Regions from separate parts of the Homo sapiens genome. Here region 2 is linked to region 1. Evidence: fine-mapped expression QTL. A gene starts in region 1. The other region holds a variant in brackets. All regions are shown on one strand. Distances are from middle to middle. Region 1 holds the start of EPS15L1 (epidermal growth factor receptor pathway substrate 15 like 1). Region 2 overlaps EPS15L1 (epidermal growth factor receptor pathway substrate 15 like 1).

Region 1 (15,829 bases):
AAATAAAAAATGTCACCTGAGCTTCATGTATTTCCAAAGGAAAAAAGAAATGAAAAATAAACAAATAATAAAGAATAAAAGCATAATAATGAAGGCCTTATTTTCATCTGCAGGTGAGATCTGGAACCATTTTTGATAACTTTCTGATCACAGATGATGAAGAGTACGCAGATAATTTTGGCAAGGCCACCTGGGGCGAAACCAAGGTATGAAGCACGTGATTAACTCTTCCTACATCACTATTTCATTTGTGTAAATTTTTTTTTTTTAGATGGAGTCTAGCTCTGTCACCCAGGCTGTAATGTAGTGGCATAGTCTCGGCTCACTGCAACCTCCACCTCCCGGGTTCAAGCGATTCTCCTGCCTCAGACTCCCAAGTAGCTGGGACTACAGGCGCATGCCACCACGTCCGGCTAATTTGTGTATTTTTAGTAGAGAGGGGGTTTCACCATATTGTTCAGGCTGGTCTCGAAGTCCTGACCTCAGGTGATCCACCTGCCTTGGCCTCCCAAAGTGCTGGGATTACAGGAGTGAGCCACTGTGCCTGGCCCCATGTAAGGTTAATATTGGCAGGTTCCAGGGATTAGGACATGAATTTTTTTTTTTTTTTTTTTTTTTTGAGACGGAGTCTCGCTCTGTCGCCAGGCTGAAGTACAGTGGCGTGATCTCGGCGCACTGCAACCTCCACCTCCCGGTTCAAGCGATTCTCCTGCCTCAGCCTCCCGAGTAGCTGGGACTACAGGCACCTGCCACCACACCCAACTAATTTTTGTATTTTTAGTAGAGACGGGGTTTCACCATATTGGCCAGGATGGTCTCGCTCTCTTGACCTCATGATCTGCCTGCCTCGGCCTCCCAAAGTGCTGGGATTACAGGTGTGAGCCACCGCGCCCAGCCAGGACATGCAATCTTTACAGGTTCTTCTTATTCAGCCTATCCTAGGTGGTGAGGAGGCTTCTAGAAGGCAGGGTCTGCCTGAGTACTGACATGCATTTGGCCACATGGAAGCATAACCCCTGGCCTCTGGGGCTTTTTTTGTTTTGTTTTGTTTTGTTTTGTTTTGAGACGGGTTTTGCTCTGTCACCCAGGCTGGAGTGCAGTGGTGCCATCTCGACTCACTGCAACCTCCGCCTCCTAGGTTCAAATGATCCTCTCACCTCAGCCTCCCGAGCAGCTGGGACTACAGCCACACACCACCACGCCCAGCTAATTTTTGCTTTTTTTTTTTTTTTGAGACAGAGTCTTGCTCTGTCGCCCAGGATGGAGTGCAGTAGAGTGATCTCAGCTCACTGCAAGCTCTGCCTCCCAGGTTTAGGCCATTCTCCTGCCTCAGCCTCCCGAGTAGCTGGGACTACAGGCGCCCACCACCACGCCTGGCTTTTTTTTTTTTGTATTTTTGGTAGAGACTGTGTTTCACCGTGTTAGCCGGGATGGTCTCGATCTCCTGACTTCGTGATCCATCTGCCTCGGCCTCCCAAAGTGCTGGGATTACAGGCACGAGCCATCGCACCCGGTGGGGCTTATGTTTTTTCTTTCTTTCTCCAGGGTCCAGAAAGGGAGATGGATGCCATACAGGCCAAGGAGGAAATGAAGAAGGCCCGCGAGGAAGAGGAGGAAGAGCTGCTGTCGGGAAAAATTAACAGGCACGAACATTACTTCAATCAATTTCACAGAAGGAATGAACTTTAGTGATCCCCATTGGATATAAGGATGACTGGTAAAATCTCATTGCTACTTTAATCTATGTTTCAAACTCAAATGTCTACATGGCACTTTGTCCAATTTTCTTTGAACAGTGTTTCATGCTTCTGGGTGGGGTAGGTTGTATCTCCCCTGGTGACCCCCTTGCACTGAGAAGTTCCCTCTTGACAATTTTACACACTGGAAGCCAGAGGCCAGCAAGGGTCTGGCCAAAACCATGATCCCCTTTTCTTAACTCCCAAAAGTCTTTTTATAAAATAAAAGTTGACCAGGCAGTGTGCCTCACGCCTATAATCCCATCACTTTGGGAGGCTGAGGTGGGCGGATCACTTGAGCCCAGAGTTCAAGACCAGCCTGGCCAACACAGTGAAAACCCGTCTCTACTAAAAATACAAAAAGGAGCTGGATGTGGTGGTGCGCACCTGTAGTCCCAGGTACTTCAGGCTGAGGCTGGAGGCAGCCTCAACCTCCTGAGTAGCTGGGACTACAGGCGCCCGCCACCACACCCGGTTAACTTTTTGTATTTTAAGTAGAGATGGGGTTTCACTGTGTTAGCCAGGATGGTCTTGATCTCTTGACCTCGTGATCCGCCTGCCTTGGTCTCCCAAAGTGCTGGGATTATAGGCATGAACCACTGCAGCCAGCCATATTTTTTGTTTTTTAATTTAATTTTTATAGGGATGGGAGTCTCACATGTTGCCCAGGCTGGTCCTGAACTCCTGGACTCAAGCCATCCTCCCACCTTGGCCTCTCAAAGCTCTGGGCTTACAGGTGTGAGCCACTGCTCCTGGCCCAGTCTTCTTCTGGAAGAGGCCCATAATCATACTGAAACTCATGATGAAAATAATCAAATTTGTGACACCAGAAATTTGGAATCTAGTGATGTTATGAATAAGCCAAATAAATTGGAATTTATATACAGAATATTGAGAGTTGACCAGTGTGGGCCGGGTGCAGTAGCTCACACCTGTAATCCCAGCACTTTGGGAGACTGAGGTGTGTAAATTGCTTGAGTCCAGGAGTTCAAGACCAGCCTGGGCAATGTGGCGAAACTCTGCCTCTACAAAAAATACTAAAAATTAGCTGGGTTTGGCGGTGCACACCCGTGGTCCCAGCTATTCGGGAGGCTGAGATGGGAGGATCACCTGAGCTTGGGAGGTGGAGATTGCAGTGAGCTGAGATTGTGCCACTGCACTCCAGCCTGTGTGACAGAATGAGACCCTACCTCAGAAAAAAAAAAAAAAAAAAGAGAAAGAAAGAAGAAAAGAAAAAAAAGAAAGTTGATCAGTTTCAAAAGCCTGGCTGGGAAGTGAAGTTCTGCAGAATTTTGCTCTCACTCTGGTCAATGTTGGCAGACCTTTGCACCTGGATTTTTTCTGATGGTGGCTACATCAACCTTCACCAATTATTAGGGATTGATTATTACTCTGAGAAACTAAAGACTCCCTTCCTCCTAATGCAAGGGTGGCAAACATTGCCTACCTCTTTCACCTCTGAACAGGGTGAGTAGTGTGAAAAGAATCAGAGGCAGACCTGGAGAGAAAGTGCTGGTACCAATTAGTGTACAAAGGTGAGTCAGGCCAGGTGTAGTGGCTTGTGCCTGTAATCCCAGCTATCTGGGGGGTCAAGGAGGGAGGGTCACTTAAGACCAGGAGTTTGAGACCAGCTTGGGCAACATAGAGACCTTGTCTCTAAAAAAAATTTTTTTTGTAATTAGCTGGGCATGGAGGTACATGACTGTGGTCCCAGCTACTTGGGAGGCTGAGATGGGAGGATCGCTTGAGTCCAAGAGGTCAAGGCTGCAGTGGGCTATGATCGTGCCACTGCACTCCAGCCTGAGTGACAGAGCGAGACCCCCTCTCTAAAAATAAAATAAAGTGGAGCTAACAAGACAAAAAACGGTGAGTGAGACTGGCTCAGGCTCTGAAGATTCGTTGGGAGCAGCGTTGTCCGAGAGAATTTGTCACATGTTGCTTTTTTTGTTTGTTTGTTTTTGAGACAGAATCTTGCTCTGTTGCCCAGGCTGGAGTTCAGTGGCGCAAGTATGGCTCACTGCAACCTCTGCCTCCTGGGTTCAAGCGATTCTCATGCCTTAGCCTCCCAAGTAGCTGGGATTACAGGCATGCGCCATGCCCATCTGAATTTTGTATTTTTAGTAGAGATGGGGTTTCGCCATGTTGGCCAGGCTGGTCTGGAACTCCTGACCTCAAGTGATCTGCGTGCCTCAGCCTCCCAAAGTGCTGGGATCACAGGCGTGAGCTACCATGCCGGGTCACGTGTTGCTATTGAGCTCTTGAAATGTGGCTAGTGGGACCAAGAAATGACTTTTTAATCTTATTTCATTCTAGTTAACTTCACTTTAAACTTTGTTAGAGGAAAAACTCTGGACATATTAAATTTCATGGAGTGTAACTGAGCAAAGAACAATTCATAAATCAGGTAGCTGCCAGAGCAACTCCATCTTGAATAGGGGCTTAGTAAAATAAGGCTGAGACCTACTGGGCTGCATTCCCAGGCGGTTAAGGCATTCTTAGCCACATGATGAGATAGGAGGTCAGCACTAAAGACCTTGCTGATAAAACAGGTTGCAGTAAAGAAGCCGGCTAAAACCCACCAAAACCAAGATAGTGATGGGAGTGACCTCTGGTGGTCCTCACTGCTACACTCCCACCAGCGCCATGGCAGTTTACAAAGGTCATGGCAACATCAGGAAGTTACTGTATATGGCAGCCTGAAAAGGGGGCCGGGCGCGGTGGCTCACGCCTGTAATCCCAGCACTTTGGAAGGCTGAGATGGGTGGATCACGAGGTCAGGAGATCGAGACCATCCTGGCTAACACAGTGAAACCCTGTCTCTACTAAAAATACAAAAAAATTAGCCGGGCGTGGTGGTGGGTGCCTGTAGTCTCAACTACTCGGGAGGCTGAGGCAGGAGAATGGCGTGAACCCGGGAGGCGGAGCTTGCAGTGAGCCGAGATCGCGCCACTGCACTCCAGCCTGGGTGACAGAGCGAGACTCCGTCTCAAAAAATAAATAAATAAATACATAAATAAGTAAAAAGGGAAGGCATGAATAATCCACCCCTTGTCTAGCATATCATCAAGAAATAACCATAAAAATGAGCAACCTGGCCAGGCACAGTGGCTCAAGCCTGTAATTCCAGCACTTTGAGAGGCCGAGGCAGGCGGATCACTTGAGGTTGGGAGTTCAAGACCAGCCTAACCAACATGGAGAAACCCCACATCTACTAAAAATACAAAATTAGCTGGGCGTGGTGGTGCATGTCTCTAATCCCAGCTATTCAGGAGGCTGAGGCAGGAGAACCACTTGAACCCAGGAGGTGGAGGTTGTGGTGAGCTGAGATCCCGTCATTGCACTCCAGCCCTGGCAACAACAGTGAAACTTCTCCCAAAAAAAAAAAGCAACCAGCAGCCCTTGGGGCTGCTCTATGAAGTAGCCATTCCTTTATTCCTTTACTTTCCTAATAAACTTGCTTTCACTTTACTGTATGGACTCGCACTAATTCTTTCTTGGGTGAGATCCAAGAACCCTCTCGGGGTCTGGATCAAGACCCCTTTGCGGTAACAGTACAAAGGGTCTGATTGTGAGAAGTGGCAGGGATCACTGGAACTCCACTTCAGATCCCATCTGGATCATCAAAACATCAACCCTAAATAAATAAATTCAGGAAATATGGTTAAATATAGAGTTTAGTTTAGCACAAAAGTTTGAGGACGGCCACCCTGGAACACAGATTCCAAAGAATGGAAATCAGCATTCCAAACTGAGGAAGTTTGGGGGTCATTTATATAGGTAAGGTTTGGGAAGCTTGACAGCGTTTCTACATATTTCACACAAGGCAAGTACATAGTTAACAGTAATCTGATTAGTCAAGGCAGTGGTCTTTTTGGGAAGGGTATATTTAACATTCACATAGAGGACATAACAGTCACAGGACCTTTTGCACTATCTGGTCTGATTTAGGTGCAAGATAATAGAGGAAAGGTCAGCAATGAAGAAGGGCGATCTTAACGCTGATGCCATTTAGTCTTGAAATGAATCTACAGAGCAAGAACAGGAGAGTTAATCTATAATCTATAAGCAGAAGTTGTAGTTACATGCTGTCTGGCTCAGATCACACAGTCCCGTTTTCTTCAAGGCTCAACATAATTCTTAGGGTTCAAAAGTGTATGATTAAGTTTGGATTTTTTTTTTTTTTTTTGAGACGAAGTTTCTGTGTTGCCCAGGCTGGAGTGCAGTGGCGCGATCTCGGCTCACTGCAAGACCCGCCTCCTGAGTTCATGCCATTCTCCTGCCTCAGCCTCACAAGTAGCTGGGACTACAGGCACCCCCCACCATGCCCGGCTAAATTTTCGTATTTTTAGTAGAGATGGGGTTTCACCATGTTGGCCAGGATGGTCTCGATCTCCTGACCTCATGATCTGCCTGCCTCGGCCTTCCAAAGTGTTGGGATTTCAGGCGTGAGCCACCATGCCCGGCCTTTTTTTTTTTCTTTTTTTTCTTCTGAGACGGAGTTTTGCTCTTGTTGCCCAGGCTGGAGTGCAATGGTGCGATCTTGGCTCACTGCAACCTCCCCATCCCAGGTTCAAGCAATTCTCCTGCCTCAGCCTCCCGAGTAGCTGGGATTACAGGCACCCGCCACCACGCCTGGCTAATTCTTGTATTTTTAGTAGAGATGGGGTTTCACTGTGTTGGCCAGGCTGGTCTCGAATTCCTGACCTCGTGAACTGCCTGCCTCGGCCCTCCAAAGGGCTGGAATTACAGGTGTGGGCCACCGCGCCCAGCCAAGTTTGGATTATTTTTACAAGATGATGCTGGAGAGTTTCTATGGCCACCACCATTCTAGACTCTGATACTGGCACTTAAAGCCTGCATGCTACATTTCCTGGACGCCGTTGCCAATTGGCAACGTTCCTGTCATGCTTTATTAGAACAAAGTTGGGAGGCAGAAAGAGGGGAGAAACCATTTTTTCAGACTTCTGCCAGTGGCTTAGGTGGTGGTGACAACAACAACTGTGACTTTCGCAATCATGGTGGAGGCAACTGTGGCTAGCAAGGGTGAACACATCTGGGATCCTTCTGTAGGCACAGTGATTGTGGGTTATGGGTCCTCCTGTGCTTTATTTATTTATTTATTTTGAGACGGAGTTTCGCTCTTGTTGCCCAAACTGGAGTGCAGTGGCGTGATCTCAGCTCACTGCAACCTCCGCCTCCCAGGTTCAAGTGATTCTCCTGCCTCAGCCTCCCGAGTAGCTGGGATTACAGGTGCCCACCACCACAACCGGCTAATTTTTGTATTTTTAGTAGACACGGGATTTCATCATGTTGGCCAGGCTGGTCTCAAACTTCTGACCTCAGGTGATCCATCCACCTCGGCCTCCCAAAGTGCTGGGATTACAGGCGTGAGCCACTATGCCCAGCCACCTCCCCTGCTTTAATCTTTCAGCTCTAGAGAGGCTAGCAGCCTCATATAGTTATGAATCTTTAGGTAAACTTACCTTCCTCTTTTGTTCTTCCAGTACTTCCAACACTTTTATACTCAGTCCCCTGTAGTCGTTTATGTATTCATTTATTTTTATTTATTTATTTTTTAGACAGAGTCTCGCTCTGTCACCTAGGTTGGAGTGCAATGGTGAGTTCTCAGCTTATTGCAACCTTCCCCTCCCAGGTTCAAGCAATTCTCCTGCCTCAGCCTCCTGAGTAGCTGGGATTACAGGCACCTGCCACTGCACTGGGTTAATTTTTGTATTTTTAGTAAAGATGGGGTTTCTCCATGTTGGCCAGGCTGGTATCAATCTACCTGTCTCAACTGGATTGCTGGGATTACAAGTGTGAGCCACAGAGCCTGGCTCAATCCCCTGTATTCAATATCCTCTGTTTGAAGTACCTAGAAGGACTTCTCTTTTCCTTATGGAATACGTACTGATAAAGCACTCAAGACTGTTAAAAACCTTCATTACTCTATTGATGTAACAAAAGAAGCTGAGGCAAAGTTAATATAAGTAGAGAGTTTGGGCCAAGGTTGAGGACCGCAGTCCAGGAGACACAGATTCAAGTTGCCCTGAATGTATGCTTTGATTAGCAACAGTTACAAGTGGGTTCTTTTTGTTTTTGACTTTGTTTTGAGACAGAGTCTCACTCTGTCACCCAGGCTGGAGTGCAGTGGTGCAATCTTGGCTCACCGCAACCTCCACCTCCCGGGTTCAAGTGATTCTCTGGCCTCAGCCTCCTGAGTAGCTGGGACTACAGGCATGCACCACCACACCTGCTAATTTTTGTATTTTTTTTAGTAGAGATGGGGTTTCACCATATTGATGTTTCACCATACTGGCCAGGCTGGTCTCCAACTCCTGACCTCATGACCCTCCCACCTCGGCCTCCCAAAGTGCTGGGATTACAGGTGTAAGCCACTGTACCTGGCAACAAGTGGGTTCTTGTCTTATTTATTTATTTATTTTTGAGACAGAGTTTCGCTTCTGTTGCCCAGGCTGGATTGCAATGGTGTGATCTTGGCTCACTGAAACCTCTGCTTCCTGGGCTCAAGCAATTCTCCTGCCTCAGTCTCCTGAGTAGCTTGGATTTCAGGTGCCCGCCACCACAGCCAGGAGGACGCCTTGCGGGGCAGGGTGAGGGGGGCAGGGTGCGGGTCCCCCAAATTAGCGCGCACACACACACACACACACACACACACACACTGCGATCCTAGGAACAGGGCGCTTTGCGGGGCAGGGTGAGGGTCCCGACCCTCCGCGGGGTGGGCGACCGCCTCCCCAGGCGCACTGGCAGGGGGACGGCATCCCTAACAGAGAACCAGGCCTCGGCATGGGCTGGAGGGATGACACAGCATGGTCGACTCGGACAGCGGCCAGCGGCATGAGAGTCCGAACAACGTTGGAAGGAGGAGTAGGGGAACGGGCAAGAGAGCACGGAAGACGCAGATGCCTCAGGCCCAGCCCCTCCAGGCTGCGTGTGGGCGGCCCCGCCCCTGCCCCCGCCCCTCCCGGCCTGACTGCACATGCGTGGCCCTGTCTACGGCCCCGCCCTCTCCCGGGACAGGCGGCCTGCGCACCGCCCTCCCGTCGTCCCAGTGCGCACGCGTGGCTGCAGCCCCGCCCCCGTTCCCCCGGCGCTCGGAGCCCGAGTCCGCGGGAAGATGGCGGCGCCGCTCATCCCCCTCTCCCAGCAGGTACGGGCCGGGCGGGCCTGGGGGCGGCGCCGGGGTGCGGGGCGCGAGGCGAGCGGTGCGGCGAGGCTGAGGCGCTGGGAGACTCAGCCAGGCGGCGGCGGGGGCGGCGCGTGCTGAAGGGCTTGCGGCGGGCGGGTGGGCAGGCGGCCCTGAAGGTGACAGGCCGGGACCCGCGGCCTCCCGTGCCCGAGCGACCCTCGCGGGCACCGGCGAGGCGAGGAGGTGCGCAGCGCGTGTCCTCTCCGCCCAGGGCCCGGACCCTGCCGCCGCTGAAGCTCCCAGGCCGGGGACCCGCGGAGGCGCTGGGCTGCATCCCGGAGGGGTGGGCGAGGGGTGCGAGCGTTTCTGTCGGCGCGGCGGCCCAGCGAGTCTTTGTCTCCCTCCGGTCCCGGCGCCCGGGCGGGCAGGGTCCCGCCGGAGCCCGGACCCGTCAGCAGCAGTGCGATCTCAGACTGATCCCCTGCCTCCTTGGAAGCTGCTTCCGCCACCCCTGCACCGGGCGCAGATCGTACGTCTCCGGGCGCCTCTCTGTGTCCTCAAATTCGCCTGATGCGCTTATGAAGGGGCAGTATCGATAGCGCGACACAGACATGCGAAAAAGAGCCATGCGTAGGCAGCTCTGTTATTTGGGAGAGACTTTCATTCATTCATTTTCTATCCATCCCTCAAATGTGCGTTGGGTCAGGTGCTGGGAGCGCTGCATTCTTCCAGACAGACAAGGTCGCTGCTTTCCTGGAGGTGACACTCGTGGGAACTAGAAACTACCTGTGTTATGCTAATCACAGCTGCCTTTATTTGCTGAATACCTGTGTTGTGCAAAGCACCATATAAGCATTTTGCTAGAATGATCTAGCACAGCATGGTGATTAAGAGTGAGGACACAGGGTCAGATCATGTGTTCAAATCTTGGCTCCAGCCCCGATTTCTCTGTGCCTTTGGTTGAAGCTCTTAGCCATTCCACCCATCAGTTGCTTCCTTTGGAAAATGGAGATATAAAAATGTGTTGGGATTATGTGAAAATTAAGCACGTGAAAAAGCGCTTAGAACAGTGCCTAGCATATGAGAGGCACTCAGTGATCCTATAATTACTGTCATCATTTAATCTCTGCCAGATTTGGACGTTTGGGAGTAGAGACCGCAGCAATTAAGAATTCCAAACCCAAAGAGAGTTGATAGGCCGGTTGCATGCTTGCATGACTGGTTAGCTGATCCAAGGAGAGAGAAGTGCACAGCTAGCCAATTTGCAACACTGTCACTAAGTTAACAGTGCTAAAACCCGGTGATTATTAATTAGCAAGTTCTTGTTACTGACATGAAAGTGCTCTGTAAACTGTTAAGTGTCCTACCGATAATAGGTGTTAATAGCTAAGTGCTACAGTTTAGAGTATGTAGTCAGGGGGTGGGGGGCGGGGAAGGCGGGAGTCGGGGGAAAATCACCTAAGATCATTTCATGAGAAAGCACTAAGCACTCCCAGTTTGGGAGGCGTGGATCTTTCTAAAACTTCCTGTCCAATTTTTTTTTTTTTGAGATGGAGTATTGCTCTGTCACCCAGGGTGGAGTGCAGTGGCATGATCTCAGCTCACTGTAACCTCCGCCTCCCGAGTTCAAGTGATTCTCCTGCCTCAGCCTCCTGAGTAGCTGGGACTACAGGCACGTGCTACCACACCCGGCTAATTTTTGTATTTTTTTTTTAGTGGAGACGGGGTTTCACCATTTTGGCGAGGCTCGTGTCAAACTCCTGAACTCGAGTGATCCACCCGCCTTGGCCTCCCAAAGTGCTGGGATTACAGGCGTTAGCCACTGCGCCTGGCCAGGTCACTGACTTCTTAGCCTCTTCCTGTTCCTTTCCCTATACATTTGTTGAATGAAGGCGTGGCCTGGTTTTCTTCGTTTGGAAATGTCAGCACTTCTTTACACTTGCTCTCGAGTGAAAATCTACACCATGGGTTACTGTTGGCCCAGGTGTGAGGCATGGCCCTCCCAGGCCCTTACTGTCTAGCTCAGGAGATCACTTGGGTTCACAGATAACTCTGGGGGAACCAAGGGTATAATTCCAAAATTTTTGGTTGGGGGCAAAAGGGAAGCACCCTGCAGCAGGTGGCTGTGATCTGGTTGGATTTAGGTGACAGAGCACACTTGGCAAGCAGATGGCCAGGTGAAGGTGAGCAAAGTGGATAACCCAGCGGGCTAGCCTAGGGGAGGAGGGGTGTGTTTTCTCCACCCCCACTCCTGTCTGCACTTTTCCCATCAGCATCTTTTTCAGTCTGTTCTGTACTCCATGACATCATCTCAGAATCTCCTTCCTTATATACTCTTTTCTGACCCTGAATATCAACGTAAATTCGAAAGGTCTGCACCTCTGCCTCTTTAGGAGTGATTTTTTTTTCCCAACAGCATCTCAGTGATTTGTGTGTCTCCCTGTCCCCCTGCTCAGCTCTCTTCTGCTTTCCAAAAAGCCTTCCGTGGAAATGCATCCAGATCTCTTTCCTCCTTGTACTCCCCGAGGTTACCGGTGGCCCCTCCGTCCTTAACCCCGGTGCCCTGTGGCTGCAGCCGATCCTCCTCGAACTCCGCAACACTGGAGCCCGTCGGTCTTCACTCTTCATCCTCTCTCCTTTCAGTCTCTCCTTCTTGTCCCCTAATTTCAGCCTCCCTACCTGCATCTTATCTCTCTGTGCGCTCCCTCCCCTGGAGCTTCTGTGCAGAGGACTTCAAACCTGCCTTCTAGAGTCCAGAAGGTGTCTCTCTCCTGCACCTCTGCCAGCCTGCTGGACTCTGGAATGGGCCATTTCCTTGCCATGCCCCAAAGTGGTCTGGGCCATTCTACTTCCTACTTGCCCACTCCCTCCCACTTAATCCCACGCCACTGTGGAAGTCATCTTTTTGATTTTTGAGACAGGGTCTCGCTCTGTCCCCCAGGCTGGAGTGCAGTGGTAGGATCATAGCTCACTGCAACCTCAAACTCCTGGGCTCAAGCAATTCTCCCACCTTGGCCTCTCAAGTAGCTGGGACTACAGGAGCGCAGCACCAATCATACCCAGCTAATTAAACAATTTTTTTTTTGAAGAGATGAAGTCTTGCTATGCTGCCTAGGCAGGTCTTAAACCCCTAGCCTCAAGCAATCCTTCTATCTCAGCCTCCTAAAGTATTGGAATTACGGTGTCAGCCACTGCATCTGGCTAGGATTCATCTTCTAAAACATATTCCCCTGTTCCAAAAACCTTTCACAGCTCCCATTCCCCTTCCTCCAAAAGAACTCAGTTTATGGCTGGGCGCTGTGGCTCATGCCTATAATCCCAGCACTTTAGGAGGCTGAGGTGGATGGATTGCTTGAGGCCAGGAGCTCGAGACCAGCCTGGCCAACATAGCAAAACCCTGTCTGTACTAAAAATACAAAAGTTAGCCAGGCATAGTGGCAAACGCCTATAATCCCAGCAACTTGGGAGGCTGAGGCACAAGAATCGCTTGAAACCAGGCGGCGGAGGTTGCAGTGAGCTGAGATCGCGCCACTGCACCCCAGCCTGGGCAACAGGGTGAGACTCAGTCTCAAAAAAAGTCAGCTTTGATGACCTTAGTAAGCCCTGAATCGACTCCACCTAACCTTGCTGGGTCCCTTTCCTGCACTTCTGGCTCTTGGCAACACTTTCTAGCCTCAGCATCCTTAGCTGTGTTGCTCCGGTTGCTAGAACATCACTGTGAGCTCCTGCCGTATGCTGCCTGCCCTGAAGGACGGTCTTTGAGGCCTCCCCTGTGTTGTCCTCCCTTAGCCCCACCCGAATGAGAGTTCTCTCCCTTGTACCTTCCGTGGGTCCCTTTTGTGACCGCTGTACCTAGGAAGCGCGTGGTAACTGGGCTCAGTGATGAGGAGAGACTGCCCTGGGCCCAAAGAGCTACACCTTCCTCCTTTCCCCCTTGTTATGTGTTCTTCATCCAGGAGCTTTTGCTGTATTTCAGTAGGTGCCTCCATTCTAGGAGGCTTTTATTCCCCTTTTACAAGTGAGGAAACCAAGACCCACAGAAATAGAGTAACTTGCTGAAGTCTCATAGTTGGTGGGCGCAGAGCTGAGGTCACACCTGCGTCCTCCTGCCGCAGAGCCCTGCTGTTCCAGATGGCCTGCTGGGCACCTCTCCCAGAGCAGCACCCGGCCAGTGTGTCTGGAATGAATGCTGAGTGGCTCGGACACTTACTTGTCCTCTTGTCCCTTGTTTCTTTTCTTCCTCTGAAATAAGTGCTAGTCTATCTTAGTAGAATGCTAATGGCAATGCAGTCTAAATTGATGAGAACGAAGTTTTAGAGTAAAATCCACTCCTGAAAGATCCAGAATTCCCTGACTGTCACTTATTGACCTGCACTGGCCTGTTTTTTTTTTGTTTTTGTTGTTGTTGTTGTTTTTTCGACTAAATAGATTCTCCCTGGGCAAGACCCCTCCACCTCCATTCTGAACTTTAAAACAACTTTCCAGGCCGGGTGCAGTGGCTGACGCCTGTAATCCTAGCACTTTGGGAGGCTGAGGCAGGTGGATCACCTGAGGTCAGGAGTTTGAGACCAGCCTGGCCAACATGGTGAAACCTCATCTCTACTAAAAATACAAAACATTAGCCTGGCGTCCTGGCGGACGCCTGTAATCCCGGCCACTCGGGACCCTGAGGCAGGAGAATCACTTGAACCCAGGAGGCGGAGGTTGCAGTGAGCCAAGATCACTCCACTGCACACTCCAGCCTGGGCAACAAAGTGACACTACGTCTCAAAAAAAAAAAAAAGAAAAGAAAAGCAGGCACCATCAGGTGCAGTGGTGCCTGCTTTTCAATGTTTAGGTCCTTAGATGTTTGTTTGGATTCCCAGATATTCCTTCACTGCCCTCAGTCCTGCAAATACTTTCTGTACCTTAGTTTTCTCATCTGCAGAATGGTACTGTGGACTCGCTTGACCTGCTTTGTCACAGTAGAGTGTCAGGACCCTGCCGTGTGACGCATGTGCTCTCAGTGCTTTCCTTTTTTTTTTTTTTTTGAGACAGAGTTTCACTCTTGTCACCCAGGATGGAGTGCAATGGCGCTGTCTTGGCTCACTGCAACCTCTGCCTCCTGGATTCAAGCGATTCTCCTGTCTCAGCCTCCTGAGTAGCTGGGATTACAGGCGCCCACTACCACACCCAGCTAATTTTTGTATTTTTAGTAGAGATGGAGTTTCACTATGTTGCCTAGGCTGGTCTCGAACTCCTGACCTCAAGTGATCTGTCTGCCTCAGCCTCCCAAAGTGCTGGGATTACAGGCAGGAGGCACCGCGCCTGGCCCTCATGCCTGCCTTTTGTAGATCACACTGTTCGTTCAGTGAGTATTTATTTGGCATCTTCTTTTTGCTGGACACTTTCTGGGCAGTGGATGGAACAGTGAATCTGAAGGCAGTGCCGCCTCACGGGGCTGACATCGTTGGGAGGGGCCCAGATATAAAGAAATGAGCCCAATGTGTAGTGCATTCGGTGGGGATTGATGCTGTGAGATGAGTAGAGCAGGGCAGGTTCCGATCTGATGATGGAGGTCAGGAAAGGTCTCACCACCAGGCTGGAAGGACTGAGTAAAGAAAACATCATAGATTGCCTGGTTCATCCTCCCGGTCACTCTGGCCAGTATTATCTTCAGTGTATAGGGGCAAGAGGGGCAGATCACTGGAGGCCAGGAAGGGCAGATCACTGGAGGTCGAGAGTTCAAGACCAGCCTGGCCAACATGCTGAAACCCTGTCTCTACTAAAATACAAAAATTAGCCAGGCGTGGTGGCACATGCCTGTAGTCCCAGCTCCTCAGGAGGCTGAGGCAGGAGAATTGCTTGGACCTGAGAGGTGGAGGTTGCAGTGAGCCGAGATTGCACCACTGTACTCCAGCCTGGGTGACAGAGCAAGACTCTGTCTCAAAAAAAAAAAAAAAAAAAATAGATAAAGTGAGGCCAGAGATTGTTACGTCCCTTGCCCAAGTTTGTACCCAGTGAGCTCAGGCAGACATGGCTTTTCTGACACAGGTTCAGGCCTCTTCATTGCACCATAGTTTCTTGTCTTGGAAAGTTATTTTTTTGTTTGTTTGTTTTTAAGTTTATGACATCTCCTAACCTCATTTGTTTTTATACCTAGTTATTAGATATCATGTAGTCTGAGTTTTTATTTTATTACTTTAATCTCATCTCATTAAAAGGTAGAGAGGGACATGGAAAGGCCTGCTTATTGTCTTCCTTTTTCCTTTAGAGACAGGCTCTTGCTCTATTGCCTACGCTGGAGTACAGTGGTGCAATCAAAGCTCATTGCAGCCTCGACTCTTGGCCTCAAGTGAGCCTCCCACCTCAGCCTCTCAAGGAACTGAGACTACAGGCATGCAACACCACACCTGGCTAATTTTTAATTTTTTTGTAGAGACAGGATCTTGCTATGTTGCCCAGGCTGGTTTCGAACTCCTGACCTCAAGTGATCCTCCTGCCTCTGCCTCCAAAGCGCTGAGATTACAGGTGTGAGCCACCACTCCCAGCCAGTTGTCTTTAGGAGAATCCAAAGGTTTCCCTGCCAGAGTGGTAATCAGTGCTCCTGGCCCATGCAGAATTGAGTTGTCCAGGCCCGGCCCACAGCAGAGGCTCAGGTCACGGGTGGTCCAAGCTGCAGGAGGGGCAGATGACTGGCTTCCATTTGGGTGTTGGACATGGTTGTATGGAGGAGAGGGCGTGTTTGGTGTAGGCCAAGCTTGTCCAACCCATGGCTGCATGTGGCCCAGGATGGCTTTGAATGCAGCCCAACACAAATTTGTAAACTTTCCTAAAACATTATGAGGTTTTCTTGTGAATTTTTTTTTTTTTTTTGAGACTAAGTCTCGCTCTGTTGCCCAGGCTGGAGTGCAGTGGTGCAATTTCGGCTCACTGCAAGCTCCGCCTCCTGGGTTCATGCCAT
Region 2 (15,829 bases), 120 kb after region 1:
GGGTCTGCGGGCTGGGCCAGATCACCCTGCTCTCTGCAGCCCCGGGGAGGTCGGGGTAGGAGGAGGCCGCAGTAGAGCTGAAGGTGGGAGGGACATCTGGGGATAGAAAAAGGGAGACACCTAGAAAGCTCGGGTGTGGGGACTGCCCTGAGAGGGCAGGCGCTGTCGGAAGGAGAGGGGCCACATTCCTGTCCTGCCCGCGTGGGCTGGGCACTGCCCCTCTAGGGAAGGGTCTCCAGCATGGCTTGCCCACAAGTTTTGGCAAAGATAGGCCCCTTCCAGATTGCAGGGCCCCCTCTGCTAACTGGGCCTTGGGTCTGACAGTGAATTGATTTGAGGCCACAGGAGGAGACTGATACCAGGCCTCGACCTCCCCTCTTTCTCATCCATGTGAGTCCTAATAGAGCCCAGGACAGCTCGCCCTCCAACCCTGAGGAGGAGCCTCTTAGATGGACTCACACAGACAAGGAGTCTGGAAGGATCTCCCGCAGCTGGTGGCCAGAGGTCAGCTAAGGATGCAACGGCGACCCCGGTGGAACCCTGTGGGACGGGCAGAGGCGGACAGGCAGGCCGCAAGGGTGGGCTGCAGGGGAGTTTGTCTCCGAGTCCTTCTGTGCAAACCGTGGGAAGGAAGACTGTTTTTCCTTGAATATGCAAAAAGAAAGCAGCAGTCCTTATGCTGGCCCAGAACTGCCGGTTGAGAGAAAAGTGAATTTCCATTTCCAGAAGTAGGGCTACAGGCAAGGGGGGGCTACGGGCCAGGTTCTCACTGGCCTATGCTGGGCACGGCGGTGCAGGACACTGAGTGGGAGGAGACTCCTGGACCCCAGGAATGTCACCTTGTTTGGCGCCCTCCTTCTCATTTCCACTTCACAGATAAGGAAACGGAGGCCAGCTGGGAGGAGGCACTTTCCCTTGCCGAGGCCCAGAGCTAAAGGTGGCAGATGGGGGCTGTAGCCCCGGAGCCCACAAGGACACCTGGGGCCTCAAAAATGAGGCCTGGGATGGCTGATCTGCTGGGGGAACAGAGGGAAAGGCTTTAGATCTGGGCATGGAGAGGGACCGAGGCTGGCCTGTGTGGGCTCGTTCTACCGGATGAGGAAGGCAGGTGTCCCAGGCTCAGGTGGTGGGCGGGGCAGGTGTGGCTGGGAGCCAGGGTGCTCTCTGGAGGTGCAGCCAGAGATCCAAGGTCAACCCTGGAGGGACAGGCAGTTCCTGGTTTTTTCTAAACATTAGCTTCGAAACTTCCAGAGTTAACACGCCGGAATCGTGTTGCATATTATTGAGCTTCCAGTCTGGGGTGCTGCGTGGACCACGTTGAATGCCCAGGGACTCCGTTGGGCAGATAGAGGGGTGTCAGGAGCATGGAGTCAGCCCGGCTGGCCTGCAAACTGCAGATGCTGGAAGGCCCGTCAGGTGGGACCTCCCGTCACCAAGCAGATCTTAACAGGCCTCTGCTTCTTGGTGGAATGTTCTGGTACATTGGCAGGATGCACTGGGAAAAGCTACCATCCTCAGGCCATGTCCCCCACACAGTGTCATTTTCCTCCATTTCTGAACACTTCTCTCTCACCTCCCTGTCAAGATATACCTTGCTGGGACCGGGCATCCTGGAGTTCCCTGCTTGGCAGAAGCCCAGAAAGGCCCAGATAAACGCTGCCCCTTGGAGCCACCAACACCAGAGGGACAGAAGTGGGGGCTAAAAAAGAACTTAAGGCCAGGTGCAGTGGCTCATGCCTGTAATCCCAGCACTTTGGGAGGCTGAGGCGGGCAGATGACTTGAGGGCAGGAGTTTGAGGCTAGCCTGGGCAACATGGCAAAATCCCATCTCTACTAAAAATACAAAAATTAGCCACGCATGGTGGCTCATGCCTGTAGGAGGCTGAGGTGGGAGGATCGCTTGAGCCCTGGAGGCCAAGGCCGCAATAAGCCATGATTGCACCACTGCATTTCAGCCCAGGTGACAGAGCAAGACTCTGTCTCTGAAAAAAAAAAAAAAAAAAAAAAAAAAAAGAACTTAAACCTCAGCATGGCAGAGCTGTGTGCAGACCCTTATAACTAACACACCGAATAACCATACCACGTTGTGAAACTAATTCCTCCTTTTCATTTGCAAGTAACTCTCCCCTCTGCCTTTTTTTTTTTTTACTGTTAGAAGCTTGCAGTGTATTTTTCTGCTCAGCCATGATTTTTTAAATTAGTATGTTAATAAATGTGTTGCCATGCTAAAATGAATCTGTTTGAAACGTACCTGCATGCAAACTATTCTAGGACAACTCAAGTTTTAGCTGCTCTGTGTGCGTTGTGTATGGGAGTCATCTGAAGTGTTTTTCCTGTGTTGTTCACAACCCGTTAAGCCCCTGGGATAAAGCTGATTAAAACTGGGATTCCCCAGGGTACCCCCGTCCAGCCTGTTAGCCAAGTTACAAGCTTTTCTCAGAGAAGCGCCCCGGGCTTGTGCCCACCAGCATTCTGCTCTGTCCGGGTGAGTAACTCATATTTCTTTCTTTCTCCTTTTTTTTTTCTCCTAAACTTTCCAGGTAAAAGTACACCTGTAAGCCAGCTTGGTTCCGCAGACTTTCCCGAGGCCCCCGATCCATTCCAGCCACTCGGGGCTGACAGCGGCGACCCGTTCCAAAGTAAAAAGGGGTTTGGGGACCCGTTTAGTGGAAAAGACCCATTTGTCCCCTCCTCTGCAGCTAAACCTTCTAAGGCCTCTGCCTCGGGCTTTGCAGACTTCACCTCTGTAAGTTGAGTCCTCCGCCTCCGGGCCACCCCACTCCCTTCCGCTTGCAGCTTCCCTGGGATTTTTGTCTCCTTTTAAAGGCAAACCTCCCAGCTTCTTTAGCCTCTTGGTACCTCACACTCTCTGTCCCTCGCGTTATTTATTCTACACTGCCACTTCTGTAAGAAAAACAGTTTCTCAATAAAAAAAAAAAGAGCCGCAGTTTGGATGCTCTATCATAAGGGCACGTTTTCTTCCAGCAGGGAGGCGGGACCTATCTGTCCTTCACGGTAGATTCATTGTATTATTTCTGACGCACCGAGGCTGTTGTGTTCACTGGTTTTTGGAAGCCAAGATGTCAAACACTTCCGAAGTATGAAAAGAAGATTGCGAAAGTTACATTAGGGTTCTGCTGTCCCCAAAAAGCCCTTTGTGCACAAGTTCTCACAGTCCCGCCCCATGCATTTTGTGCCACAAGTGCAAATTGAAGGACTTCAGGCAGATCGCGCCAGGGAAGAGCAATTTGAAGTTTTTTTTTTTTAAAGCTTTTAAATTTCAGTTACCAGCTCCAATGAAAAAAGAAATCCAGTCTAGAACAGCCACTCTGAAAGCCAAAACAAAAAGAGCTCCAAAAAACTGTTGAGCAAAGTTAAGTGCCTTTTCGGAAGCAAATCTCGGGATTTCGAAAGCCTGGCTTTGTTTTTCTCTGTGTGAAAAAATATTCCAGATTGTAACATGCCGTCGCTTCAAGGAGTTTTTAGCAGCTTCCTTGATACATGAAAATCTTGTTCTCTGAAAGCTTCAGGTGTTGTCTTCCCAGAATTGGTTTCACTATGTGTGATGCCCTCGCTTTCTTCCTTTGGGCTTGTTAGTTCCTTCATCATTAGGTGTGAGATGTGTTATTTATAGATGCTTCGACTCCTGGGATGGCTCTTTGAACACAGCCCTGCCATGTCAATGCACAGAAAGCACCCGATTTGTTTCTGAGCCGTCTTGATAATCTCTACCGTGCACAGCTATCCTATGGCTTATTTGTCAATTTATTTATTTTAGTGACAGGGTCTCGCTGTGTTGCCCAGCCTGGTCTGCATTGGCGCGATCAGAGCTCACTTGTAACCTCGAATTCCTGGGCTCAAGCGATCCTCCTGTCTTGGCCTCCTGAGTAGCTGGGACGACAGGCGTGCAACACCACGCAAGGCTAATGTTTAATTTTTTTTTTTTGTAGAGGTAGGGTCTTGCTGTGTTGCCTGGGCTGGTCTGGAACTCCTGGCCTCAAGCGATCCTCCCACCTTGAAGTACTGGGGTTACACGTGACTGGCCCATGTGGCTTATTTAAATCGCCCAAGACCCTGACCTGTTTCTGGCTCTTGGTGACCTATAAATATTTTACAACGGCAGTGAGTTTGATTTTGTTGACCCTAGATGCGCACTGGGGGTCTATACAAAATGGTGACATTGTTAATAAAAGCCAGAAACAAAACCTGCTTTATCTAGAGTTTCTTGAATAGCCCTTCATTTATTTTCTGGTGGAAAAATATTAAACGCTGATTTAAAAAAAACAGAACTCTTCACACATGACTCAGGTACTCTGTCTTGGGTAGGGAAGAGTTAGGTAAGTGGGGTGAACGGCAGCTTGAAGAAATGACTGTTCTCTTTCTGAAATTCATAATTCTATTTCCTGTGACCCCAACCCGCAAAGGGCTCGTTTTTTCGAAAAGCATAAAAAAAAAAAAAACACCCAAGGTTTCAAGGTATCATTTGGCTTAGCATTTCTGGTAGTTCCAGAACAATTGTTAACTTCAGTTTTAAAATAGCGCCAGCCATTTTATCACCCTCATCTCCTGGTGGGAAAGCAAATTCCACCCAGGCCTGGATGCAGCCCTGTTGTTTTCTGTTTTTTTTTTTTTTTTCCCTAAGTTTTTGGTTTTTACATATTTGGAGATGAGTCTCGCTCTGTTGCCCAGGCTAGAATGCAGTGGTGCAGTCACAGCTTCACTGCAGCCTTGACCTCCTGGGCTCAAGCAATCGTCCCACCTCAGCCTCCCACGTAGCTGGGACCTCAGGCGCGCACCACCACATCTGGCTAATTTTAAAATGTTCTGATAGAGACAAGGTCTCACTTTACTACCCAGTCTGGTCTTTGAACTCTGGGCTCAAATGATCCTTCTGCCTCAGGCTCCCAAAGTGTTGGGATTACAGGCATGAGCCCCTGTGCCCGGCCTGTTTTCTGTTTAAAATCACTTTTCCCACTGCAAATACCCCAGTTTTTTTCCAGAGGAAATGATCAGATAGTGTACTTCAGCCACTCTGAAGGGATGGGTTGAGTGAAGACAGGACCCTTAATTGTTTTTGTTTGTCCCCTTGGGTCGTATCATTGTCTAAAATCATCCATAACCAGCTCTCCTCTGGGGACTCAAGATGACGTCTCTCCATGTTCACGGCATTCGGGGGCTCAGCCGATCAGCTGGTGGTTTCTGGGTTCACTGGATCTTGACTATTTGTGCTAACTTAGAAGAGGGCACAGCTGCTTCCTCTGGTTTGAATGATTCCACTTCCCTGAGCAAATGCCAAGAGGGCTGTCTGACTGCCCGGCAGATTGGCAGCGTGACTCTTTCAGCGTGGACGTTCTGAGACTGCTGTTCAGGGCATGTTTTTACCTGTGCAGGAGCAGCCCAGTCCATGCTGGCAGTCAGGGGGGCCCAGGTCACCCGCACCTCACTTGTGGAGGTGGTGCCCCGGCGGTGCCTCTCCAGAACCCTCTAATTTACAAACCCCAAATTTCCATCAATGGGTTATTTGCGTGTGTGGCTGTTCCCGGGAAACCTCTTCCCTCTCTGGTATTTCTTTAAAAGCAGGCCTTTCTGTCTCAGGCAAATGTGTGTATTAGGAAGTGGCATTTCTAGGTTAGCGGAACGGTTCTTTTGGAAGTTCGCATTAAGAGTAGTGCAAATACCAGATCAGCTAGGCCGTGCTTCGAATTATTGAAGGAGTTGGATACAATTTCATTGTCGGTAAATGAATGAATGGGAAGTGGCTAGGCATGTCCTGCACATGGTGGGGTGGAAGTGCCATCAGACACCTTGGAGCGCCAGTGAGGACAGGTGCCGGGCGCCTCCCGGGGCCATCCCATCGCCCAGCGTGCCGAGCTGTCTAAACTGCGGATTTCCAAGAGGCTGCTGAAATGAACCACTTATTTGCTTCTGAAAATGAACCCCATCCTGAGTGGGCAGGCCTCGGCTAGGGTGGTGTCATGCCCCTACGGTGTCTCGGTTCCATGGTAATGCCAGAGGGAAGCAGAAATCAGAGCCAGTGTGTTTCCCAGCCACTATTGGTTTTGCATCGGCCACAGACATCCAGATTCTGGCCCGTGTGACCCACCCAGATACGAGAACTAGAAGGTGGCCCCGTCCAGGGCTAAGACAGCAGACACAGAGGGAGCTGCGGAGTCCCCTTTCAGGAGAGCTCTCCCAGGCCTCACAGCCCAGCGTGCCTCCTAAGTGCATACAGACCTCACCAATGCAAGTCTCCACAGTGGATTCGTGAGCTGGCCTTGAACCGGTCGACTCTGAAGGCACCAGGAACTTTCCTGCTGACACCTTTCATTTGGAAACACAGACCCGTCAAGGGAAGGCGCTTCAGTGACACTGTGACACGGGGGCTCAGTGGGGCCAAAGGCGGCCAGAGGGCTGTGGTTCAGACCCAGCAGGCCGGTTACTTGGTCGTTCCAGGCTTTGATTTGGATCCAGGCGAACATTACTGTCAGCTCCCACCCACCCTGTCCTCAAGGCTGGTGGAGGGTGAGGTCCCCGTCAGCTGCACTGTCTCCCTCCCACTGTTGTCAGCAGCACCATGGAATAATTTCCACCTGCACTTGTTGGTTTTTCCTTGTTTTTCTCCCCATGAGGTGTTGGAAAATTCCCCAAACTGGGGCGGGGGGGATGCTTATCTGTGCCCCTGGCAGTGACACAATGGCGGGGAGGGAGTCCGACCTGGAGACTCATCAGACCCCCAAGTGTTTAGCTGGGCAGTGCCTCTTTAAGAAGTCAAGACTCAGCCCTTCCTCCCAGGGACATCTTTTCTTGATACTGACACTCCGCCTGTCCCCCATCTGGGTCCTGAGGCCAGCTAGAGGGAGGCCTCCAGGGCCCCGCATCCCCCTCACTGCCACATCTGCCTCCCAACCAGGTTCCTTGCATTTATCTGCTCCTGCACCTTGCCCAGTCCCCCCAGCCCTGCCATCTGGCCCTCCTCTCTCCTGCTTCCCGCTCATGCCACCATCAAGCCGTGAAATATCCAGACGCTGCCAATCTGATCACCCAACTCGCTCGCCCAAGGAGCCTCCACGGGGAAATCCCAGCTCCTTCCTGGGGCCCACGAGCCCCTCCTCAGTCTGGCTTATCCCACCCCACGCTTCATCCTGGCTACCCCAAGGTCGGGCACTGAGCCTCACACCCAGAACCTCGCAGGGACGCATCCTCCCTGTCAGTTTCACCTAGTATCCTGCTCCCCACAGGCCTGGGGGGGAAAAAGTCTAGAGTGTGAGCCACCCCTTCCCTGGCCTCAGTGTCCCCAGCTGTCAGAGGGATGAGATGACAGCGGGCCCACCCCCAGGTTGTCACGCAGACCTAGTGCTGCGTGTGGTGGAGAGGCCGTGAGTGTTCCTGTGTGCTTCTTTCCCCCACCTTCCTGGGTTAGTCTGCAGGGCCCTCCTCGAGAGCCTGGGTCCTTGGGTCCTGGATCGTTCTGGGATTGTTTGTATATTTCTGCTCCCAAGGGTGCCTGGGGAAGAGCCACTGCGCATGTTATCTTTGGTGTTACTCCAGTGTTGAGCAGAGAGCTGGTCAGAGGCAGTGCAT[C/T]GCAGAGAGACATTAATAAGGGAATCCTTTGAATCCCTAAGCAGCAGCAGCTTTCCTGAGGGGGCCGATGATGCCAGTGACCTCTCAGGGAAGTCTGGGACATTGGGACCCACCCTGGGGGAGGAGCTTGTGGGATGTGGCTTTTCTTTTCATGACTAAAGTACTTTGAGTTGTTTGAAATCACCTATCTCAGCATCAAGATGGTTTTCTCCCTTTTTTAAGTTTTTATTTTAACTGAACATTTTAGAAAAACACCCCACGGATAAAAACTTGACTAAATGGCAGTGTAAGTGCCACACCTTTTGTCAGTGTTCTGGGAGAAATTGACCCTCAGAGCCGGGTGCGGTGGCTCACGCCTGTAATCCCAGCACTTTGGGAGGCTGAGGCGGGTGGATCACAAGGTCAGGAGTTCAAGACCAGCCTGACCAACATGGTGAAACCCCGTCTCTACGAAACATACAAAAATTAGCTGGGCATGGTAGCGCATGCCTGTAATCCCAGCTACTCAGGGGGCTGAGGCAAGAGAATCCCTTGAACCTGGGAGGTGAATGTTGCAATGAGCCGAGATCGCGCCATTGCACTCCAGCCTGGCGACAGAGCGAGACTCCATCTCAAAAAAAAAAAAAGAAAAAGAAAAAGAAAATGACCCTCAGAGGGTCTCAGAGCTCTCTGGAGCATGGCTGGAGGTAGAAATACCACATTCCCAGAGTGCAGAATTGTCTGCGCCGTGGGGCTTTAGAGCCATGCACGCTGGAAGTTCCCCATCTTTGCACCTCTTGGCCACCAGCGTCAAGGGCCCATCCTCACTTCTCTGCGTGGGGCGGGGTGGCTGGTTTCTTTGAGGCCCAGAGGTCATGGTTAAGGTCACACTCAATCACATGCATCCCGTCCACTCTGCTTTCCAGATGGGGGGCCTGAGACAGGCTCGCACGCCCACTGGGCCCAGCCAAGACATGCTTATCCCCTGCACATCGGACCCTCCGCTGGGCGGTGGGCAGGACCCTGACCCCTCCCACGCATTCCCTGCCTCCCTCCAGCTTGCAGGTCCCAGCCCCAGGGCCACATCACCCACTCTCCGTTTTTCCTTTGCAGTTTGGCAATGAGGAGCAGCAGCTGGCGTGGGCCAAGCGGGAGAGCGAGAAGGCGGAACAGGAGAGGCTGGCGCGGCTGCGGCGGCAGGAGCAGGAGGACCTGGAACTGGCCATCGCGCTCAGCAAGGCTGACATGCCTGCCGCCTAGGCGAGGGCCGTGTGTAGGCGGGACAGGGCACGGGCGGGTTCCAGAGAGGGGGCAGTGCAGATGTCTATATATACACACACACACCGTCGCCACCGTACTCCAAGGACCGGGACTCGGGGGCTTGTTCAGGGTGAGCAGACTCGGCTGCAAGACCTGGAAAGGTCACATCTCCTGGGGAAGCCCTTACAGAGGCCTTGGCCACCACTTCTGCAGGTCCGTCTCTCCACTGTGCCATCCCCCCCGGGGCTGACTGCCTCCCGCTCTTCCTCTGGGGACGAACACACAGCGGTCAGTCGAGGAGAGGAAGCACCCAGGGCTTCCCCGCCTCCTCCCTACTCATAGCTGCAGACATCCCCACCCGCCCTCCCACGCATCAGTCAGACACTCCCCCAGTGGTGTATGCACTCGTTGTATAAAATGAAGTTTGAATGATTAATATAAAATATTTTAATACAAAACAAGAGAAGCTTCTTTAATCTCTGTAAACATTGTTTTCCCTGCATGGGTATCAGGAAGCAGATCAACCAGGTGGAACATTGCTCTTTAAATCTTAAGTTTTTACTTTTAAAAAAAATTTTTTTTTAAGAGATGAGATCTTGCCATGTTGCCCAGGCTGGTCTCAAACTCCTTGACTCACACAATTCTCCTGTCTCAGCATCCCAAAGTGCTGGGATTACAGGCGTGAGCCACCAAGCCCTGCCCATTTTTATGTTTTAACCAACTTTATTTTTTAGGACAGTTTTAAACCTGCAGAAAAATCACAAAGATACAAAGAGTTCCCATAAGCCCCTTAGACAATTTATCCTTAAAAAAAATTTTTTTTTGAAACAGGGTCTGAGCTCTGTCACCCAGGGTGGAGTGCAGTGGTGTGATCTCAGCTCACTGCAACCTCCACTTCCCCGGGCTCAAGTGATCCTCCCACTTCAGCCTCCCAAAGGGCTGGGATTACAGACATGTGCCACTGTGCCTGGCCAGTTTTAAATTTGCAGAAAGATCGCAAAGAAAATACGAAGGGTTCCCATAAGCCCCTTAGAGAGTTTACCTTATTTTTAACATCTTACATTACACATTACTTACATCCCAATTAATGAACCAATACGGATTCATTATTATTAACTAGAGTCCTTACTTTATTCAGAATTGCTCTGTTTTTTTGGCTGAGTGCGGTGGCTCATGCCTGTAATTCCAGCACTTTGGGAGGCCGAGGTGGGGGGGATCACTTGAGGTCAGGAGTTGGGGACCAGCCTGGCCAACATAGTGAAACCCTGTCTCTACTAAAAAAAAACAACACAAAAATTAGCCGCGCGTGGTGGTGCGCACTTGTAATCCCAGCTACTCGAGAGGCTGAGGCAGGAGAATCACTTGAAACTCAGGAGGTGGAGTTGCAGTGAGCCAATATCATGCCATTGCACTCTGGCCCAGGCGACAAGAAAGACACCGTCTAAAAAAAAAAATGCAGGTAGGGCACGGTGGCTCACACCTGTAATCCCAGCCATTTGGGAGGCCGAGGCAGGTGGATCATTTGAGGTCAGGAGTTCAAGACCAGCCTGGCCAACATGGTGAAACCCCGTCTCTACTAAAAATACACAAAAAATAGCCGGGTGGTAGTGGAGCATGCCTGTAATCCCAGCTACTCGGGAGACTGACGCAGGAGAATCGCTTGAACCTGGGAGGTGGAGGTTGTGGTGGGCCAAGATCGCACCTCTGCACTCCAGTCTGGGCCACAGAGTAAGACCCTGTCAAAAAAAAAAAATTCGTTTTTCCCCCTAATGTCCTTTTTCTGTCCCAGGATCCCCCATGACATTCAGACCTTACATCTCGTTAGAATTCTCTGGGCTGGGTGGAACCCCGTCTCTACTAAAAATAGAAAAATTAGCCGGGCGCAGTGGCAGGCGCTTGTAATCCCAGCTACTCAGGAGGCTGAGGCAGGAGAATCGCTGGAACCCGGGGGGCAGAGGTTGCAGTGAGCCGAGATCACACCGCTGCACTCCAGCCTGGGCGACAGAGTGAGACTCTTGTCTCAAGGAAAAAAAAAAGAATTCTCTGGGCTGTGTGAGTTTCTCAAACGTTGTGTGTTTTTGATGACAGTTACAAGGAGAACTGGTCAGGTGCTTTGTAGAATGTCCCTCCACTGGGATTTGTCTGATGTTTTTCCCGTGACTAGATGTGGAGCTGGACTTGGGGGAGGAAGACCACAGAGATGAAGTGTATTGACATCAAATCACATCAAAGATCCATGTCATCAACATGACTTAGAAGGCTGGTGTTGACCTGGATCCACTGGACATAGATTTATTTTTATTTATTATTTTATTTTATTTTGGGACAGAGTTTCACTCTTGTCACCCAAGCTGGAGTACAATGGTGTGATCTCAGCTCGCTGCAGCCTCCACCTCCCAAGTTCAAGCAATTCTCCTGTCTCAGCCTCCCAAGTAGCTGGAATTACAGGCATTAGGCAACATGCCTGGCTAATTTTTTGTATTTTTAGTAGAGATGGGGTTTTGCCATGTTGGCCAGGCTAGTCTCAAACTCCTGGCCTCAGGTAGATTTATTTTTAAAAAGCAGTTTTTCAGCCTCAGATATTTTGTTACATAGACTCGTCTCAGGGCAGTAATTCATGAGATTGAAAATACAGGGCCGGGCGTGGTGGCTAACGCCTGTAATCCCAGCACTTTGGGAGGCCAAGGCAGGTGGATCAAGAGGTCAGGAGATTGAGACCATCCTGGCCAACACAGTGAAACCCCGTCTCTACTAAAAATACAAAAATTAGCTGGGCATGGTAGTGGGCACCTGTAATCCCAGCTACTCGGGAGGCTGAGGCAGGAGAGTGGCTTGAACCCGGGAGGCAGAAGTTGCAATGAGCCGAGATCGTGCCACTGCACTCCAACCTGGTGACAGAGCAAGACTCTGTCTCAAAAAAAAAAAAAAAAAAAAAAAAAAGGCCAGGAGCAGTGGCTCATGCCTGTAATCCCAGCACTTTGGGAGGCCGAGGTGGGAGGATAACTTGAGGCCAGGAATTCGAGACCAGCCTGGCCAATGTGGTGAAACCCCATCTCTACTAAAAATACAAAAAATTAGCCAGGCGTGGTGACAGGCACCTGTAATCCCAGCTACTCAGGAGGCTGAGACAAGGAGGATCGCTTGAACCTGGGAGGCAGAGGTTGCAGTGAGCCAAGATCGTGCCACTGCAGTCTAGCCTGGGCAACAGAGCGAGACTCCATCTCCAAAAACAAAAAAAGAAAATCCTCAGGAAAAGGAAGAGAAAAAATATTGGCCATCCATTAAGTGGAAGTGGATCATCATAAAGGTCTTCTTCCTCATCATCTTCCCATTGAGTAACCCGAGGAGGAGGAGGAGGAAGGGTTGGTCTTGGGGTGGCAGAGGTGGAAGAAAATCCACATACAGGCAGGGCACAGTGGCTCATGCCTGTAATTCCAGCACTTCAGGAGGCTGAGGCGAGTGGATCACCTGAGGTCAGGAGTTCGAGACCAGCCTGGCCAACATGGTAAAACCCCGTCTCTACTAAAAATACAAAAATTAGCTGGGTGTCGTGGCAGATGCCTGTAATCCTAGCTATTAGGGAGGCTGAGGCAGGAGAGTCACTTGAACCCGGGAGGCGGAGGTTGCAGTGGGCTGAGATCGCACCACTGCACTCCAGCCTGGGCAACAAGAGTGAGACTCGGGCTCAAAACAAAGAAAATCCACATATGACTGAACCCACCCAGTTCAAACCTGTGTTGTTCAAGGGTCATCTATAAACCATAAACTGAAGTTTATGGTGGATTTGGGCGAATGTAAAGATTCCAAACCTTTGGTAATCCCCCTTTTCCAGGTTACAGACCCTCGAGGGGTCCCTGCAGTCCTGGAGATGAGGGTGTTGGGAGGGGACGTCTTCTTGGTGCCCATGGAATGGGCCTGCTTTGTGGATTGGGGCCTGGTGGGGCCTCGTGGGCTTTGTAACCTCTGAGATGCCCCTAATCTTCTCTGCAAAAACGAGCAGCTTCCTGAAAGTGGTCATGGCCGGAGGCAATTCCCAATACTTCCTTCCTCCTGCAGGAAAACCCCAGAGTGAATCTGAAGGTCCCAAGCCATGTGCTTCTGCCGTGATAGATCCCTTTGGAGAAGGCGCTGAGTCACCTCTCTCCAGGGTAGTCACAGCTTTGGCACCATTTGGTTTGGGACTTCACAATTTTCACAGCGATTCAGCTTCCATTATCTTGTTGGAAACTCAAAGCAACCTTGTAAATGAAGAGGGTGGATGTTAGCCCATTTTCCTGAGGGAAAACTGAGACTCATTCCCTGCAGTCATTTGCCCAGAGCTCCGAAGCCAGCCAGGGGCGGAGGCTCGTTTTGCTGATTTGAGAAAAGAATTGAGGGTTTCTTAGAAAACTTCAGGGTTTCTAGTTTCTTGTTGTCTTCTGCTTATTTGCATATTCACCGTACCCAGAAGAGGCAGGTGATGGCTCTTGATATCTTAGAAATGGAAAACCATGTATTGAATTAGGAGCTCTTACCCAGGGGAGGGGACGTTTTTAGGGAAAGCAGTGAACCCCTGAATGCACATTTGCTGGTTTTTTGTTTTTGTTCTTTTTTTTTTTTTTTTTTTTTTGAATCGGAGTCTTGCTTTGTCACCAGGCTGGAGTGCAGTGGCGTGATCTCAGCTCACTGCAACCTCTACCTCCTGGGTTCAAGTGATTCTCCTGCCTCAGCCTCCCAAGTAGCTGGGACTACAGGCACACGCCGCCATGCCTGGCTAATTTTTGTATTTTTATTAGAGATGAGGTTTCACCATGTTGGCTAGGATGGTCTCGATCTCTTGACCTCGTGATTCGCCTGCTTCAGACTCCCAAAGTGCTGGGATTACAGGCATGAGCCACCGCACCCAGCCCTGGTTTGTTTTTTATTGTATGTGGGTTTGCAGTGTTCATAACTTTTTATCTTTTTTTTTCCCCTTTTTTAAGAGATGGGGGTCTCGCTCTCTCACCCAGGCTGGAGTGCATGGCGCAATCATAGCCCACTGCAGCCTTGAACTCCTGGGCTCAAGTGATCCTCCTGCCTCAGCCTCCTGAGTAGCTGACCACATCCGGCTAATTTTTTTTTTTTTTTTTTTTTTTTTTTTTTTTGAGACGGAGTCTCGCTCTGTCACCCAGTCTGGAGGGCAGTGGCACGATCTCGGCTCACTGCAAGCTCCGCCTCCCGGGTTCACGCCATTCTCCTGCCTCAGCCTCCTGAGTAGCTGGGACTACAGGCGCCCGCCACCACGCCCAGCAAATTTTTTTGTATTTTTAGTAGAGACGGGGTTTCACCGTGTTAGCCAGGATGGTCTCGATCTACTGACCTCTTGATCTGCCCACCTCAGCCTCCCAAAGTGCTGGGATTACAGGCATGAGCCACCGTGCCCGGCCCTGGCTAATTTTTTTTAATTTTTATTTTATTTTTATTTTTATAGAAACAGGGTCTCACTATGTTGGCCAGGCTGATCTCCAACTCCTGGCCCCAAGTGACCCTCCCGCTTCGGCCTCCCAAAGTGCTGCTGATGACAGGTGTGAGCCACTGTGCCCAGCCTCCATCTGATTTTTAAAGAGGTCCTCAGACCCTTTAAAAAGTTAGAAGCCAGTCTCAAATCCTGTTTCCTTCCTTCCCTGCTACACACACACACACACACACACACACTCCCCTGCTGTGTAAATAATCAACATCAAATCCACAAATCCATCCCCTCTCCCATTGGCAGTCTCTTCCACGGCAAAGGACACTCACGCCCTTTCCTGAAGAATAGAGTATCCAATTGGAACAAATGTATGATGAAAATTTCCAAACATAATAGTTGAAGAGAAAAGGACAGTAAACACCCCCACCCAGCGTCAACTGTCATCCAGATTTTCCACCTTTGCCGCATGGCTGTCTTCCTTTGCTCTGGAGAAGCACTTTAGAGCAAGTTGGAGTCAGGATGCCATTTCGCCCACGTGCCCTGAAGCGCACGTCACTGAGACGTGTGGCGACTGACATGCTAACGTATACTCGATGCCAAGGTCACGTCTGAGAAAATGAACAATGACCCCTCCTAGCCATCAGATCTTTCACATAAGAGGCAACTTTTGATTGTTTTTTTTCAAATGGTTTCTTTCTCTCTCTCTCTCTCTTTTTTTTTTTTTTTTTTTTTGAGATGGAGCCTTGCTCTGTCTCCAGGCTGGAGTGCAGTGGCGCGATCTCAGCTCACTGCAACCTCCACCTCCTGGGTTCAAGCGATTCCCCTGCCTCAGCCTCCCAAATAGCTGGGATTACAGGCACCTGCCACCATGCCCGGCTAATTTTTTGTATTTTAGTAGAGATGGGGTTTCACCATGTTGGCCAAGATGGTCTCGATCTCCTGACCTCGTGATCTGCCTGCCTTGGCCTCCCAAAGTGCTGGGATTAGAGGCGTGAGCCACCGCGCCCTGCCTCTTTTTTTTTTTTTTGAGACAGAGTCTCTCTCTTGTCACCCAGGCTGGAGTGCAGTGGCGCAATCTCCGCTCACTGTAACCTCTGCCTCCTGGGTTCAAGTGATTCTCCTGCCTTGGCCTCCCAAGTAGCTGGGATTACAGGCACCCGCCACCATGCCTGGCTAATTTTTATACTTTTAGTAGAGACGGGGTTTCACTGTGTTGGCCAGGCTGGTCTCGAACTCCCAACCTCAGGTGATCCACCCGCCTTGGCCTCCCAAAGTGCTGGGATTACAAGCGTGAGCCACCGCCCCCGGCCCCTTTTCAAGTAGTTTCGATCTAGGGTTGGTTGAATCAGCAGATACAGAAACCTCCAATACAGCAGACAAGAGGCAACTTTCATTTTATTTTTGTTTCTTTATTTTTAGAGAAAGGGCCTTACTCTGTCACCCAGGCTGAAGTGCGGTGGTTGCGATCATAGTTCACTGCATCCTCAACCTCCTGGGCTCAAGTGATCCTCCCACCTCAGCCTCCCAAGTAGCTGGGACTACAGGTGTGCACCACCATGCCCAGGTAATTAAATTTTT

What was found.
Region 2: its variant is fine-mapped to the expression of EPS15L1 in whole blood (TOPMed, PIP above 0.99).

What each region holds. Positions count from the first base shown.
Region 1 is chr19:16,464,991-16,480,819 of GRCh38, reverse strand. EPS15L1 (epidermal growth factor receptor pathway substrate 15 like 1) reads left to right here and starts at 8,850. Exons shown (of 24, transcript NM_001258374.3): 1 at 8,850-8,907. The coding sequence starts at 8,875. CALR3 (calreticulin 3) reads left to right here. Exons shown (of 9, transcript NM_145046.5): 8 at 114-206; 9 at 1,546-1,759. The coding sequence ends at 1,689. RefSeq lists silencers at 8,619-9,018, 9,079-9,298 and enhancers at 9,379-9,528, 8,761-9,672, 15,220-15,829.
Region 2 is chr19:16,348,696-16,364,524 of GRCh38, reverse strand. EPS15L1 (epidermal growth factor receptor pathway substrate 15 like 1) reads left to right here. Exons shown (of 24, transcript NM_001258374.3): 23 at 2,541-2,746; 24 at 8,674-9,278. The coding sequence ends at 8,820. Among named protein-coding and RNA genes, the nearest start is that of KLF2, 32 kb to the right of the region's middle. The variant C/T (reference allele first, on the strand shown) is at 7,582.